2 linked regions of the Homo sapiens genome follow. The protein of the gene in region 2 interacts with the protein of the main gene of each other region in a pairwise test. Each region holds a gene or a part of one and is shown on either strand. Other genes may lie near its edges.

Region 1 (7,061 bases), on a different chromosome or scaffold from region 2:
TTTAGGTTCATAAACTTTTTAGGTTAATACGTGATATGGCTTGGCTCTGTGTCCCCACCCAAATCTCATGTGGAATTGTAATTCTCAGTGTTGGGGGAGGGACCTGGTGGAAGGTGATTGGATCATGGGGGTGGATTTCCCATTGCTGTTCTTATGATAGTGAGTGAGTTCTCATGAGAGCTGGTTGTTTAAAAGTGTGTAGCACTTACCCCTTCTCTCTCTTCCTCCTACTTTGGCCATGTGAGGAAGGTGCCTTGCTTCCCCTTTGCCTTCTGCCATGATTGTAAGTTTCCTGAGGCCTCCCCAGCTATGCATAACTGTGAGTCAATTAAACCTCTTTTTTTCATAAATTACCCAGTCTCAGGTAGTTCTTTATAGCAGTCCAAGAACAGACTAATACAATAAGTTAAGATTTCTACTCTCCTCACAAACAAATAGGGACTTTAGAATATTTTAACTCTGATTATTCCTTCATATCTTAACATCATAGTATTTCCCAGTATTTTGGTACTCTACTGTTTTTATATACCTCAAATTTGTTCAGGCATGGCCAGATCCACATGCTCAAATGACTAAAATACTAAGAGAACTCCAAACAGTGGTTCAAACAAGAGGGAACTATATTTCTTTCTCACATGCAGTCTAGCAGTAAGCAGGTAGCCCAAGGCTGCTAGGCTGCTCTGCTCCATGGGATCATCCAAGACAGGTTTCTGCTGTGTTGTTCCTCTCCCCTTCCTTCCCCAAGGTTGAATCTTGGCACTAGAATGTTCTTAACCACAACACCAAAACCTTCAGAGCTGTCTTAACTACCCAAATGATAACTCACCTCTACCATGTCCACATCCTACCCAATGGGGAGAAAGACAAAGTTGAACACAAGCAACTTCTTTTAAGGAAGTGACATGGAAGTGCAGATGGTTGTTCTTTGCTGCAAGGATGGTTGGGAAATGTGGTTTCTGGTTGGGTGGCCCAGTGCCCAAATAAAACTTGGGGGCTTTTGTTACTATAGGGAAGAAGAGAAGAATGGGCTCTGGGGTGTAGATATCATCAGAATCCTGTGCCCCCTTCTGATTTTCTCTGTGTTTGCTTCAACCTTAGGAAGCCTCCCCACCAGTAATGGCAAAGATGACCACTAACAGTAGCTTCATAGTCTTCCATTTTAGCAATTCTAGAAAAAAAAAAAAAAGGAGAGTGGGTCTTTAGGATAGTTTCAGCTAAAGTCTGGGGTTTCTTTAACTGGTCTAATGTGGATCACACCCCCATCACTAAACTAGTCACTTTGACCAGGAAGATGCATCCCCCTGGCAAACAGGTGTGAGTCATATGGGCACCCCTGGAAGGTAGGTGGGTTAGGATTACCTCCACCTGAACCACATGGCCTGAAAATAGAAGAGTGGCCCTCAAAATTCAAATGATGAGGTGCTGTGACCACCCGAATGATTGCTAAATAAGCCATATAAGAGATGACCACTAGACTTGTCTGTCCCACAGGGTCATTGGATGGTCCAGGGAGGTTGAATGCATTTTTCAAATCCAAGTAAATAAATGTGGAAGGTGATGTTAACGATAAAATTTTCCTTACACTTCTCATGCTGGGAGAACTCCTTCTCATCTCTTACTAGTCATTCATTCAGCACCAGTGTTAACCTCTGTTATGTTGACCATACTCTTTGATAATTATTTACTTATGTGTCTGTCTCTCAGTTCTCCAATAACACATTCTTTCAAGTGAGGGCTCCTCCAGAGCTATAATCCATATGTGTCCTATAGTCCTCAAGGCACAAAGTAGGCATCAGGAGACTAGACTTGTTAAATGAAAGAAGGATAAACTATCAGTGATTCTCAGAATAGACATCCTCCCTCCAATTTTTAGCCTTTTTTAAACCTTTGGAAATCATTATTGGAAATGCATCAGCCAAATCCCAGGGAGTTCTGCAGGGGTGAGAAGAGGAAATGTACGACCAGATTATGTTCTTTATAAAAATATATCTCCTAACGACTGGAAAACAGCACCAGACATTATTTTATTTATGGAACTCAAATCAAATCACCAAGAGGCAAAGTCCTAAGTAGGAGGAAGTTCAGTAGATAATTGACTAATCAGAGCTGTCTTCTCATCCAATTTGATTCTAGGATTAAAGAAAATCTGTGTTGTGCAACCCATTTATAATCTAAACACATACATGACTTTCTCTCCCTGAAACACCAATGCTCCCAGCTTAACTGATACTGAAAACTCTGCCTATATTGGAGGGGAAAAGAGCTGAAGTCCAGTGGATGTAGCTAGTGGAGGAGTGCAGGAGACATAAATGGAGAGATAGCAAAGACAGAACAAAAGTTACTTGGAGGAACAAGAGGTCTCCTGGAGAAGGTGTCCAAGTGGCTTCTTAGGACACTCCACTTATGGGTCTTCTGGGTGGGCCTTTTGGATACTAATAGCTACCATTTATTGAGCCATTGCCATATGCCAGATGTTGTGGTAAGCATTTTTAGTGCATTATCTCATTTTAATTCTCAGAACAACCTTGCAAGTTCAGTATTGGTACCCCCATTCATAGATGAAACTGAAGGTCAGAAGATTGCAGTGATTTGCCCACTGCCATACAGTTAAGAGCTACAAAAGCCAGGATTTGAATCTCTGCAGATTAGATTTGACTCAAAGCTTCTGCCCTGGGTCCTTCGCTATCCTCACAAAACCACTTTTTTTTTCTTTTTGAGATGGAGTTTTGCTCTTGTCACCCAGGCTGGAGTGCAATGGCACTATCTCGGCTCACTGCAACCTCCACCTCCTAGGTTCAAGCGATTCTCCTGCCTCAGCCTCCTGAGTAGCTGGGATTACAGGCACGCACCATCATGCCCAGCTAATTTTTGTATTTTTAGTAGAGACAGGGTTTCACCATGTTGGCCAGGGTGGTCTTGAACTCCCAACCTCAGGTGATCCACCGGCCTCAGCTTACCAAAGTGCTGGGATTACAAGTGTGAGCCACGACGCCCGGCCCACAAAACCATTTTTGAGGCAGGTAGTATTTCCTCCATTCTACAGATGAGGAGACTGAAACACAGGGATGACTCAACTTGCCCAAGTGGCACAGAGAGTAGCAGAGCCAAACCAGGTCTTTCGGACTTCAAAATCTCTTCTGCTTTGAAGATAGAAGAAGAGCAACGGCGAGGAGTGAGAACGTGCCAGAAGGCCCCTGCAGGCCAGGCACTGCCGTTTCCTAGGGCACAGGTCCTACCTACTCCCAACCTCCACAATTAAGCCACTTTCCAGAATTTTCTTTTCTCTACCTCTGCCCCAGTGTGGCACCTGAACTGAACAGGGACTGGGCGGTTCTTGGGGGAGTCTAAAACATACCTTCGCAAAGATTCCCTAGGAAAGGAACATCCAGGGCACCACCAGCCCTGGTGCTCCCATTCCGACACATCTGAGCAAGGCCTGTGCGTAAGACTGGCAAGTGCTTGAACCAGGAGGCAACCAAACTGGGCTCAAACACAGCCCGCCGGTTTTGACCAATTCCAGCAGCTCCCCTTTTCAAAGCATCTATTCTGGGACAGACATTTCACTAGGAGTTTCCTCCATGTTTTAAAATTTAATAGCACCCCCCCCCCCCATTGGCCCTATTTTACAAAAGAGGAGCCTCCGACTCCTGGGGATGAAGCGACAAGCACAAGGACAGAAAGTCCTCACGAGCTTGGGACTTGAACCCACTACGTCCCCAGATTCTGCTGTTGCCCGGGAGTAGAGGAGGGAGGAGCTGCCAGGGCGGAGGGTGGTGGGGAGGGAAGGCAAGCTCCCAGCAGCGCAAGCTGACGACAGCAGGTGTTTTTGTTTTGTTTTGTTTTTTTCTGCAGCACTCTTTCAGTCAGCATCGTTCCTGGATTTTTTTCTCACTGCTGAGCAGCATAAAAGGGTGGGGCCGCTTCCCTGCAGCAGAGGCAGAGGCGGCGGCGGCAGCGGCTGCAGCATCATTCGCGGGCAGCGGCGGAGACCGAGAGCTGCAGAAAAGGGTGGGGTCGCTTCCCAGGAGAAGAGGCGGTGGCGGCGGCGGCTGCGGCATCCTCGCGGGCAGCGGCGGAGGCAGCAATGCTCGGTCTCCGCTGGAGGTGATGGCCTCCCAGCCCTGCTAGGTGGCCGGCTGCACTAGGACGCCGGCAGGAAGGAGACTCGAGCCCGGTCCGCGGACCCTGCGGCCACACCGCCCGGCCCCTCCTCTGCGCCATGGCTTAAGCCTGTAGCCACCTCTCCTCACGTCGCCTCGCTCGACCGAGGTCTGTGCGCCGCCGCAGCCGCAGGGAGGGGCGCGTCCCAGACACCCTCGCCGGGGACTCGGGAACGCCGTGCGTCTCACCCTTCGGCGCTCGCAGCAGACTGCGCTCCCAAAGGCGTTTGCGACCGGTAATCGAGGGACTCTACAGACTCTCCTAGGACAGCTCTCCCCGGGTGCTCGCTGAGGGAGGAGGGCGAACTAGCTCCGGCTGATCGGGGGTAGAAAACGGTGGGAACCACATTGGCCGGTCAGGATCGGAGGCTGAAGGAAGATTATAGAGACTTGCTTTAGAACCACAAGAAGAAAGAGGAGGCCGGCTTTTCAGCTAGCATCATGGCGTGGCCGTGCATCACGAGGGCCTGCTGCATCGCCCGCTTCTGGAACCAGTTGGACAAAGCGGACATCGCTGTGCCGCTGGTTTTCACCAAGTACTCGGAGGCCACCGAGCACCCGGGCGCCCCGCCGCAGCCACCGCCGCCGCAGCAGCAGGCGCAGCCGGCGCTCGCGCCCCCCTCGGCGCGCGCGGTTGCCATAGAGACGCAGCCAGCCCAGGGCGAGTTGGATGCAGTTGCCCGGGCAACGGGGCCAGCGCCTGGGCCTACCGGCGAGCGCGAGCCGGCGGCGGGCCCCGGCCGGAGCGGGCCGGGCCCGGGCCTGGGCTCCGGCTCCACCTCCGGCCCCGCGGACTCGGTGATGCGGCAGGATTACCGAGCCTGGAAGGTGCAGCGGCCCGAGCCCAGCTGCCGGCCGCGCAGCGAATACCAGCCCTCCGACGCTCCCTTCGAGCGCGAGACCCAGTACCAGAAGGACTTCCGCGCCTGGCCGCTGCCGCGCCGCGGGGACCACCCGTGGATCCCCAAGCCCGTGCAGATCTCTGCGGCCTCCCAGGCGTCGGCGCCCATTCTCGGGGCGCCCAAGCGCCGGCCGCAGAGCCAGGAGCGCTGGCCAGTGCAGGCCGCCGCTGAGGCCCGGGAGCAGGAGGCGGCCCCCGGCGGAGCGGGTGGCCTGGCGGCCGGAAAGGCGTCCGGGGCGGACGAGCGCGACACGCGCAGGAAGGCCGGGCCTGCCTGGATTGTGCGCCGCGCCGAGGGCCTGGGGCACGAGCAGACGCCGCTGCCCGCGGCCCAGGCCCAGGTCCAGGCCACCGGCCCCGAGGCTGGCAGGGGGCGCGCCGCGGCGGACGCCCTCAACCGGCAAATCCGCGAGGAGGTGGCGAGTGCAGTGAGCAGCTCCTACAGGTGAGACGCGGCCGCTGCTAGCGCGGGGGAGTCACCACGCAGACCCTCCCCGCGGGCTGCCCGGGGCCCAGGATCCCCAGCGCAGGCCTAGCGTGCAGCCTCCCTCCAGTCCCAGGCCACACCCTCTCCCCAGCCGCCTCCCAGGCCACCTCCTGTCGAAGCCTTCTCTTCTGCCCTGTCCCATGCGCAAGCTGTTAGTATATTCCATCTCAGCCTGCCTGGCTCTTTCACTTTACCGCTGTAGCCCTTTTCTCCATCCCTCCCACCTCAGATCCCTGCCTTCCCACAGAGACCCTTTGCAATGTCAGCAGAGGCTGTGCTTCCGTCGTGCCCCCATCCAACTCACCTGCTGCGTTAGCCTGGATGTTGCCCTTTGCAGGGTCCCCATTCTTCCAGAAGAAGAATTCTTTCCAAGTGGCCTCTCGCCCTCCTCCCTAGCCCAGTTCCCTTGGCCCTTCATTCTTTCCTCCCTTTCTCAGTCTCTGGGCAACACCCAAGCACCATACCTTTTTCTAGATTACCCACAGGATCTTTACAAATTACCCCCCACCTTCCACCGCTGGAACTTTGAAGTCATTGTCCTTCCACCTCTCCCTAGCTGTGACATATTGGGCAAGTTTCCTAACCTTTCTGGGCCTCATGTTCTTATCTGTAAGATGTAATTGGTAATAGACATCTCTTAGGATTGTTCACACTTTTATTGATTTAATATTAAACATTTTATTTTTATTTAGTTAATATTAAATATTCAACATATTTTTGAGTGCCTACTATATGCCAGGCAGTGTGCCGGACATTGTGAGGATTAAATGAGATAATCAGGAGAACAGCTCGTGCCTAGCACATAGTGGTAATTAGTACATCTTGGTTCCATTCCTACCTTCCACATGATACCTTATGATCCTACTTCCTAGGTGCCTCCAGCCTTCTCTGCTATTGAGGCATCTTCTTTCTCTCTCCTTTCCCTACATGTTCTCCAGATGTCTCTCATTCTCTTGCCACCAAAAACCCCTTTCTCCAGCACACTCAATTCCTTGCAAATGAATGCTTTCAAGCATGAAAATCTCTCTCTCTCTTTCCTTCTAGAATTTTCCCTCTGCTGCAGCTTCAGCCATTCCAGTCTGCTTTCTTGCCCTTCATCCATCCGGTATATATTTCTGAAGGCTTAGCTTTCAATTCTCCCCTTATGTTTCAACCAACATCAATTAGCTAACAGAACACAGTTGACTCTGGACATGCAACATTGCATTTGGGGTCTCTCGGGGAAGATCTGTATGAAAGTAATTGAGCTAGAGGTGTTCAAAATGCAGCTTATGGGGTCCTTTATCAATGCCACAGCTTTCTGCTGCCTCCTTCCTGCAAGAGGGTGTGGGGGGCGGGGAGGACTAGAGAGTTAGTCCTTTGCCAAGACTCTGTATATAGGTTAGACTAATATCCTTCTCCAGTGAACATTACCAATACTCTCTCATAGGCTGAGGAAAGAATAGCATATCCAGACATCCTTCATGTTAAGAGAAAATCTGTCCCCCAACTCCTACCCCTGCATTTCTCATCT
Region 2 (7,158 bases):
GTTTGTTGTGTTTTGTTTTGTTTTTTGAGACAGAGTCTCCCTCTGTCACCCAGGCTGGAGTACAGTGGCTCAGTCTCGGCTCACTGCAGTTTCTGCCTCCTGGGTTCAAGGGATTCTCCTGCCTCAGCCTCCCGAGTAGCTGGGAAGACAAAGCACACACCACCACGCCCACAAGCACATACCACCATACTCGGCTAATTCTGTGTGTGTGTGTGTGTGTGTGTGTATTTTTAGTAGAGACAGGGTTTCACCACGTTAGCCAGGATGGTCTCGATCTCCTGACCTCGTGATCTGCCCGCCTTGGCCTCCCAAAGTGCTGGGATTACAGGTGCAAGCCACCGCACCCAGCCCTAGAATGTAGGTTTTTAAGAAGGATTAAGAAGATACAGAAAGAGTTTGGCTTCTTCAAACCCAGCCCTCACATCCACAATCCAGCAGGCAAGAAGGAGGAAAACATGCCCCAATACCCCCAAGTGAATGCGACACTTGCATTTACTTCCCCTTAATCAGAACTTAATCACCTGCACATACCTGCCAGTGAGGGGGCTTAGGAATTACGGTCTCCATTCTGATCAGCCTATGCTCAGATAAATATGGTAGCTCTGTACCCAATGGGAAAAGAAAATGAATTTTGGAAGAATATTGGAGGAGGAGGGTGAATGGCAGCTCTTTCAGACTGTGGGAATCTCTTCTGTGTTCCCTTTGTGCTAGAGAGTTCTTAAGCACTTCACCATTTAGATATTCTCAGAAGAGCATCAACCCTCATGATTGAATCCAGGAACTGAGCCTTTTTCTAAACTCCATTTCCTTCTTTCTCCATTCTCTGAGCTCCTAACACCAAGAGGTGGTGGGAATACCGTCACAAAAGAACAGCAAACAGAAACTCAGGGAGGAGCCTCCAAGTTTGTGGTAGCCCCCACTATTAACATGAGCTGAACAATGCTTGATAATTCAAACAAGGTAGGCCTGTGACTCAGGATGTTCACATCCTAAAAAGGCAGTTGACAACCTGTGAGGAGAAATGTCAATATTCACAACAGTTCAGGAGGTTAAATATCTTAAGAAACAACACACTGAAATGAAAGCACCTTGATATTACCCTGTGACTACTTGCAGCACTTCTTCCTTCTTTTTCCTCAGACTGCTGAGAATATTGCCAGAAGAGATAGGAAAAATAAAACTTGGGAGTGGTAGAATGAGAAAAGATAGTTACTGTTTTGGTCACTTGCTAGGCATTGGATGCCCCAAATTGCTATTTTCCAAAGAATCTTATCATTTGATCCCAAAAGCCAACTGAAGGCAAATGATGCCATCACTTAAAATTATGTTTATCACCCAGCCCCATGCCTTCGGTCTTACCCAACACACTATTTAGAAAATCGGCCTGGCCGGGTGCAGTGGCTCACATCTGTAATCCCAGCACTTTGAGAGGCCGAGACAGGAGGCTCACTTGAGGCCAGGAGTTCAAGACCAGCCTGGGCAATATAGCAAGGCCCCGGCTCTACAAAAATTAAAAAAAAAAAAAATAGCTGGACCTGGCGGCATGCACCTGCAGTCCTAGCTACTCAGGAGGCCAAGGTGGGAGGATTGCTTGAGCCCAGGAGCCCAAGGTTTCAGTGAGCTATGATCATGCCACTGCACTCCAGCCTGGGTGACAGAGCAAGACCCTGTCTCTTAAAGAAAATTATTATAAAAAATAAAAAGAAATTTGAGAAAGAAAACAGAAAATAGATTTGAAAGTGAAATACTAGGGTCCAATCTGGCAATCTAGTAATCCTAAAGATTAAGAGAAAAGTTAGTTATGAGTGTTGGTTAACATTTTAATAGCGGGTACTATTGCTAATTTGGTATTTTGGTTTTTTGCATTTTTTTCCACAGGTAAGAAAAAAAGAGGAAAACATGCTTTCTAACTTCATGGCAATGAGAAATACATACATAAGTTTTTATATTTCTTCCTGGCTTAGATTTATTTCTCACTGTGGGCATAAACCAGGACAGGTACCCTCTGAATATAACCTTTCCCCAGATGTGGAGTGCAAATGAATGGGTTCTTAAGTTATGGTGCTAGACATTTGTGCATTTGAAGTTGAAGGGACAACCATCCCATGACCCGTTGTACCTGAGGTGGTTAACGCGAATGATAACCACAAGTGCTGTTTTCTGCTTTTCTCTCCAACCCAGCTGTGAAGTTTGGGAGGATGTCCAAGAAGCAAAGGGACAGCCTGTATGCTGAGGTGCAGAAGCACCAGCAGCGGCTGCAGGAACAGCGGCAGCAGCAGAGTGGGGAGGCAGAAGCCCTTGCCAGGGTGTACAGCAGCAGCATTAGCAACGGCCTGAGCAACCTGAACAACGAGACCAGCGGCACTTATGCCAACGGGCACGTCATTGACCTGCCCAAGTCTGAGGGTTATTACAACGTCGATTCCGGTCAGCCGTCCCCTGATCAGTCAGGACTTGACATGACTGGAATCAAACAGATAAAGCAAGAACCTATCTATGACCTCACATCCGTACCCAACTTGTTTACCTATAGCTCTTTCAACAATGGGCAGTTAGCACCAGGGATAACCATGACTGAAATCGGTAAGTGGAAGTCTCCTCCCAGTGGCTTTTTTTGAGATTTTGCTTTGAATTTACCTTGGTCCTATTTAGTATGGTAATTTTCTTAAGACTTAAATTGAATTACTTGGATTCACAGCTTCTACTGAGAAAACAAATTGATTTTTAAATATATTCTAATAAATGTCATTTTTCCCCACCCCATAAAAGTTTATTTCAAGCAAAGGAAGAAAGAAGAAATTATAAATAGAAAGATGCTATCTGTAAAGAACAGATGCTATCTGTTGAATTTGGGTTCTCACTGAAGGAAAAATGTTATTGGTATAAACAGGGAAATTTCGGCATGTATTCAAAGTTGATGCTATTCAAAGTGAAATTGCTGAAGGATATAGAAACAGTGTGGAATAACCAAACGAACAGGGGCCCAACTCTTCCTCTAAGATAAATGGGGACAAACTTTAAGCAAACAGTATCTCAGCTTCCTTCTTGGTGAAGTCAGGGCGATAGACCAGAAGACCGCCAAGGCTCTTGGAAATCTGAATTCAAGAATTCCATATAGGATTCTGAATTACAGCAATGAAAAGAGTGTAGTCTGGAATCTTATAGAACATGAGAGCAACAAATAAGCTAGTCATAGGCATGATTGCATCAGAAAGCTGATCCTCTTTCCTTCGATTCCTAAGGAGCGATCTTCAAGAGTGCCCTGCCTTAGGCAAGCTCTCTTCTGACCCACTGCAACTTTGTTTTACTCCATCGAACTCAGGAGTCTATTAAATGTTTAACCAGTTAATCTCATCAACTAACTGCCATAAAAATATTGAAGTAGGTTTAACACATTACTCTCCTGGGTAACAGGGTTGCATGTTAACAGTAGGCTAGAAGAGCTAAGCAAACAGTGGCGATGTGATCCCAGGCTTCACTGCAATATTTAGTGTACTGGAGAAAGCAGGCTAGAGCTCAGGAACCTTCAAGGGCTCTTTACATTTCTTCAAGGGCTCTGCCCAAAGAGGTGGCAGAGCAGAGCAATTAAGAACTGTGCTACCTGAGTTTAAATCCTGGCTCTTTGGCTTACTATTTAAGCTGGAGCAAGTTTCTCAATCCCAGTTCCTTCATCTTTACAAGGGGGAAAGCATTAGCTTGTAGCTCACAGGGACATTGTAAAGCTTAAATGAGTTAATACGTGTAAACCATAGCAAGGTTTGGCACTCAGGAAGTGCTCAATAACTCTTAGCTATTACTGTTTTATGCTACATGCTCGGTCACCTTCTCTGTCTAACCTGCAAATAGGAGCCTAAAGCCTACAAGTGTTTTAAATTAAGCTGCTGTGAACACATAATGAAATACATGGCCATATTCTTGGCTACTTGTACCATCTGGTTGAGGAAGAAGCAATGTTACACAGTTATAAACCTGAAGCGTTATTTCTCCCTTTTAGCAATGCAGCATGTGACAGTGAGTAACATTGTTGACAAAGCACCTGTAATGACTTTCACAGCTGAGAGACACACAAAAAAAGAAACATCAACTAAAATAACAAAAATAGTTAATTATTACTGTCATCCTTAACTGTTTTTACTATATCATGGGCCCTTCACACGTTTACTTTTCACGAACATCTTAAAAGATAAATTAAAATAGTATTTCTGTTATACAGATGCTGAAACCGAAGCTTAGAGATGTCTCATAACTTCCCAGAGTCCTATAATTACTAAATGACAGAGCCAGGGTTCACCTCAGACAGTCTGATTCCAGAGTCCCTCCACTCCTCTGTTAACCTGCTACCTGCCATGGGTCTCAATTCATAGACTGCATTGTCAACTAATAGGGACGGTCATTTAAAATAGTCATTCAAACTTTTCAAGAGGGAAAAGGCACCTTCCTTTGCATTTATACTACTTAATATCTAAGTTCCTGAGTCTACTATTAATTTGAGAGATATGTTTGAATCCTTATAAAACAAAAACTCACAACAGTGGAGCAATCTTCTGGCCTATATTCAAAAGGGGAGTCTTCTAAGAATTAATAAATCATAACTTGTTTATGATTTAGCAACCACATTAAATATTATGGAAAGAGAACTACAGCCAAACCATCAGGTCTGCGTTACCCTGAACAAGTCATTTTTCCTCTCTGACCCTGAGTCTATTCTGTGAACTGACAGAACTGGACTAGAGAATCTCAAAATTTATCCAGACACTCTGCACAGACATTGACATGCAAAATAAACTCGCGTATATTTTACTCAATTATTTCAAGATACCTCTAGTCTTTAGATATCTTTAAATATGTTTCAAATTTTGGAGGATTTTTTTCATCAGACATTTAGGGATGCAAATGGGCTGTCCTGCCAGTGCTCTCAAATTTAGGAGACCCCTAAGCCTAAATAGTGGTTTGGTTCACATTTCATTAAAACAGCAATGCCACCTAGTGGACACAAACCCATTCTATGACTGTTGAATCTAGGTACCAATGAAGAGCCACAATAGTATAATATACTGTCTTTCCTGCACCGTCCAAAACATTGACACTCATTTCACTAAAATATTAAATCCTTGACAGTATCACTGGGCAGGAAGGCATCTGTGGTATAGTGTGGTGACTAAGAACTCTGCTTCTGGAGTCAAAGTGCCTGCATTTAAAACCCAATTGTGCCTTTTCCCTTAAACAATTTACTTAACTTCTCTGAGTCTCAGTTGTTAACCCAGGCCAATAATAGTCTTTATCTGTGTGTGTGGATTAAGTGAGTTAATATTTATGAGTTCTTAGTACAGTACCTATCATATGTAAGCACCATTATTATTAATAATATAACTGTTATTTTAATTGACTATTAGTATCACTGGTTATTGCAGATAATATAATTACCTTTTATCGAGCACCTACACTGTGATGAGCAAGTCCTATTTAAATTCTCATAACAATCCCATTATGCCTGTTATGTATTTGTATATTTTACTGATGGAAAAATCGAGGCTTAGAAGTTATATAACTTGTAAAAAGCAAAGAACACTTATAAGCCCATATCTGAGTAACATCAAAACCCATTCTTTTAACCGTTATACTGTATTTCCTCCCACCAATGGCAGCTCCTCACAAGTTGATTGCCATTCTCACCACAACACAGGTTTGGTGTTTGCTGCCTACCTGACCTCCTTCTAGGCACTACAAACTGGAGCTTTCAGAGTATGCACGCTGTCATTTTGACTTGATTTGATTAATGGGCATCTAAACCAATCTGGTTGGTGGCAAGCTGCCATAGAAAAAAACCCTATGCATATAAAACAGAAAATCAGATTTTGCCACATCCTGACTGGGTGAATTTGAGATTATGTCACACCAAAAAAAAAAAAAATTTAACATCACCCTTGGCTACCAGAAGTCCTGATCTGCTTCCTCTGGATTCTAAGAGAATAATGAAATGTATGCAACTAGGTCATTATGCTTCTGATATTGGGTCATCTTAAAAGCAGATCGCTTTTAAAAACCAGTTTTTAGACCAGTCCATATAGACTAAGATCTCATGAGTTTGAAATTTTTGATAAAAACACACATGTAAGAACCATAACACAACTATATGAGCAACTGCATGCAGATCCCAAAAAGTCAGTTTTTGAATATTAGCAGAGTCAGGAATACTCTCCCAAAAAAACAAACTTGTCTTGCTGAAAGTTCACCAACGAAACTACAAAATTCCTAGGTTAAGGGCTCTAATGATAATGTTTGATATATGGAGAAAAATGTAGAAAATCATTTCATGCATTTTAGTCATTTTGAGCCTCACACCAGTTCCTTCAGGTGAGCAGTGAAGAAACCATTTCATTGTACAGATAAAGAAATTGAGAGTCTGAGACAGTGAGTGATATTCCTAGGACAGAGAGTTAAGTGATAAAGCTTAAATTCTAAGGTTAAGGTTAAGTCACTGTCCTAGACTGCCAGGCATTTTTCTTCAAATACCTATTTTTGAAATGTGCCATACACTTGAGAAGAGCAGAACGAGGTTTCTGCCCTCACCATCTAGGAGATACCACGAAAATAAATAGTCACGACAATTCACCACATCCTAAGTATACGTTCTGGGCGGGATGCTACCACACTCTTCTGGAGGTGAGGGAGACGGCAAGTATTGATCAACCTGAGCCACATCTCTTATCAGGAATGTTTTATTCCCCTAGTTTTGAGAATAGAAATAAAATGTGGGTAAGCAAACAGAAAACCATGAAACATTTCAGGAGTTACATCCTTGGGTTTTTCTAAAACCATAGGAAAAAGAAGCCATGAAATGAAAGAATGGCAACAAGTAAGCCGAAAATTAATATTTAGACAGCAGTATTAACTGGGTTTAGCTGGAATTTTACTTCAAACTGGCGTGATGGATGTGTTACATCTTTAGGGATAACATTTTGCAGTGGTTGGTGGCAGGGAGAGGAAGCTAGCTAGCTAAAAGATGTTCCGCAAACATGCAGAAAAGGAAAGTAGAACATCTTGTCTTTGCTCCACCACTAACAAGCTGAGATGAGTTGGGGAATTCTGCAGGACTAATACTCTTAATGAAAGCTCATTTAAGCTGGAAGTGATTGGCAATGTATCTACAACGTCTCA

Evidence for each region. The genes of interacting proteins can lie anywhere in the genome.
Region 1: the proteins of RORB (region 2) and MAP6 interact in a two-hybrid assay, tested with the Homo sapiens proteins (one study listed by BioGRID).

Annotation. Positions count from the first base shown.
Region 1 is NC_000011.10:75,665,910-75,672,970, reverse strand, and holds the start of MAP6 (microtubule-associated protein 6), read left to right. Parts: upstream 1-3,932; 5' UTR 3,933-4,601; coding exon 4,602-5,506; intron 5,507-7,061. UniProt on the Homo sapiens protein: Involved in microtubule stabilization in many cell types, including neuronal cells. Specifically has microtubule cold stabilizing activity.
Region 2 is NC_000009.12:74,640,233-74,647,390, forward strand, and holds part of RORB (nuclear receptor ROR-beta), read left to right. Parts: intron 1-2,181; coding exon 2,182-2,583; intron 2,584-7,158. UniProt on the Homo sapiens protein: Nuclear receptor that binds DNA as a monomer to ROR response elements (RORE) containing a single core motif half-site 5'-AGGTCA-3' preceded by a short A-T-rich sequence.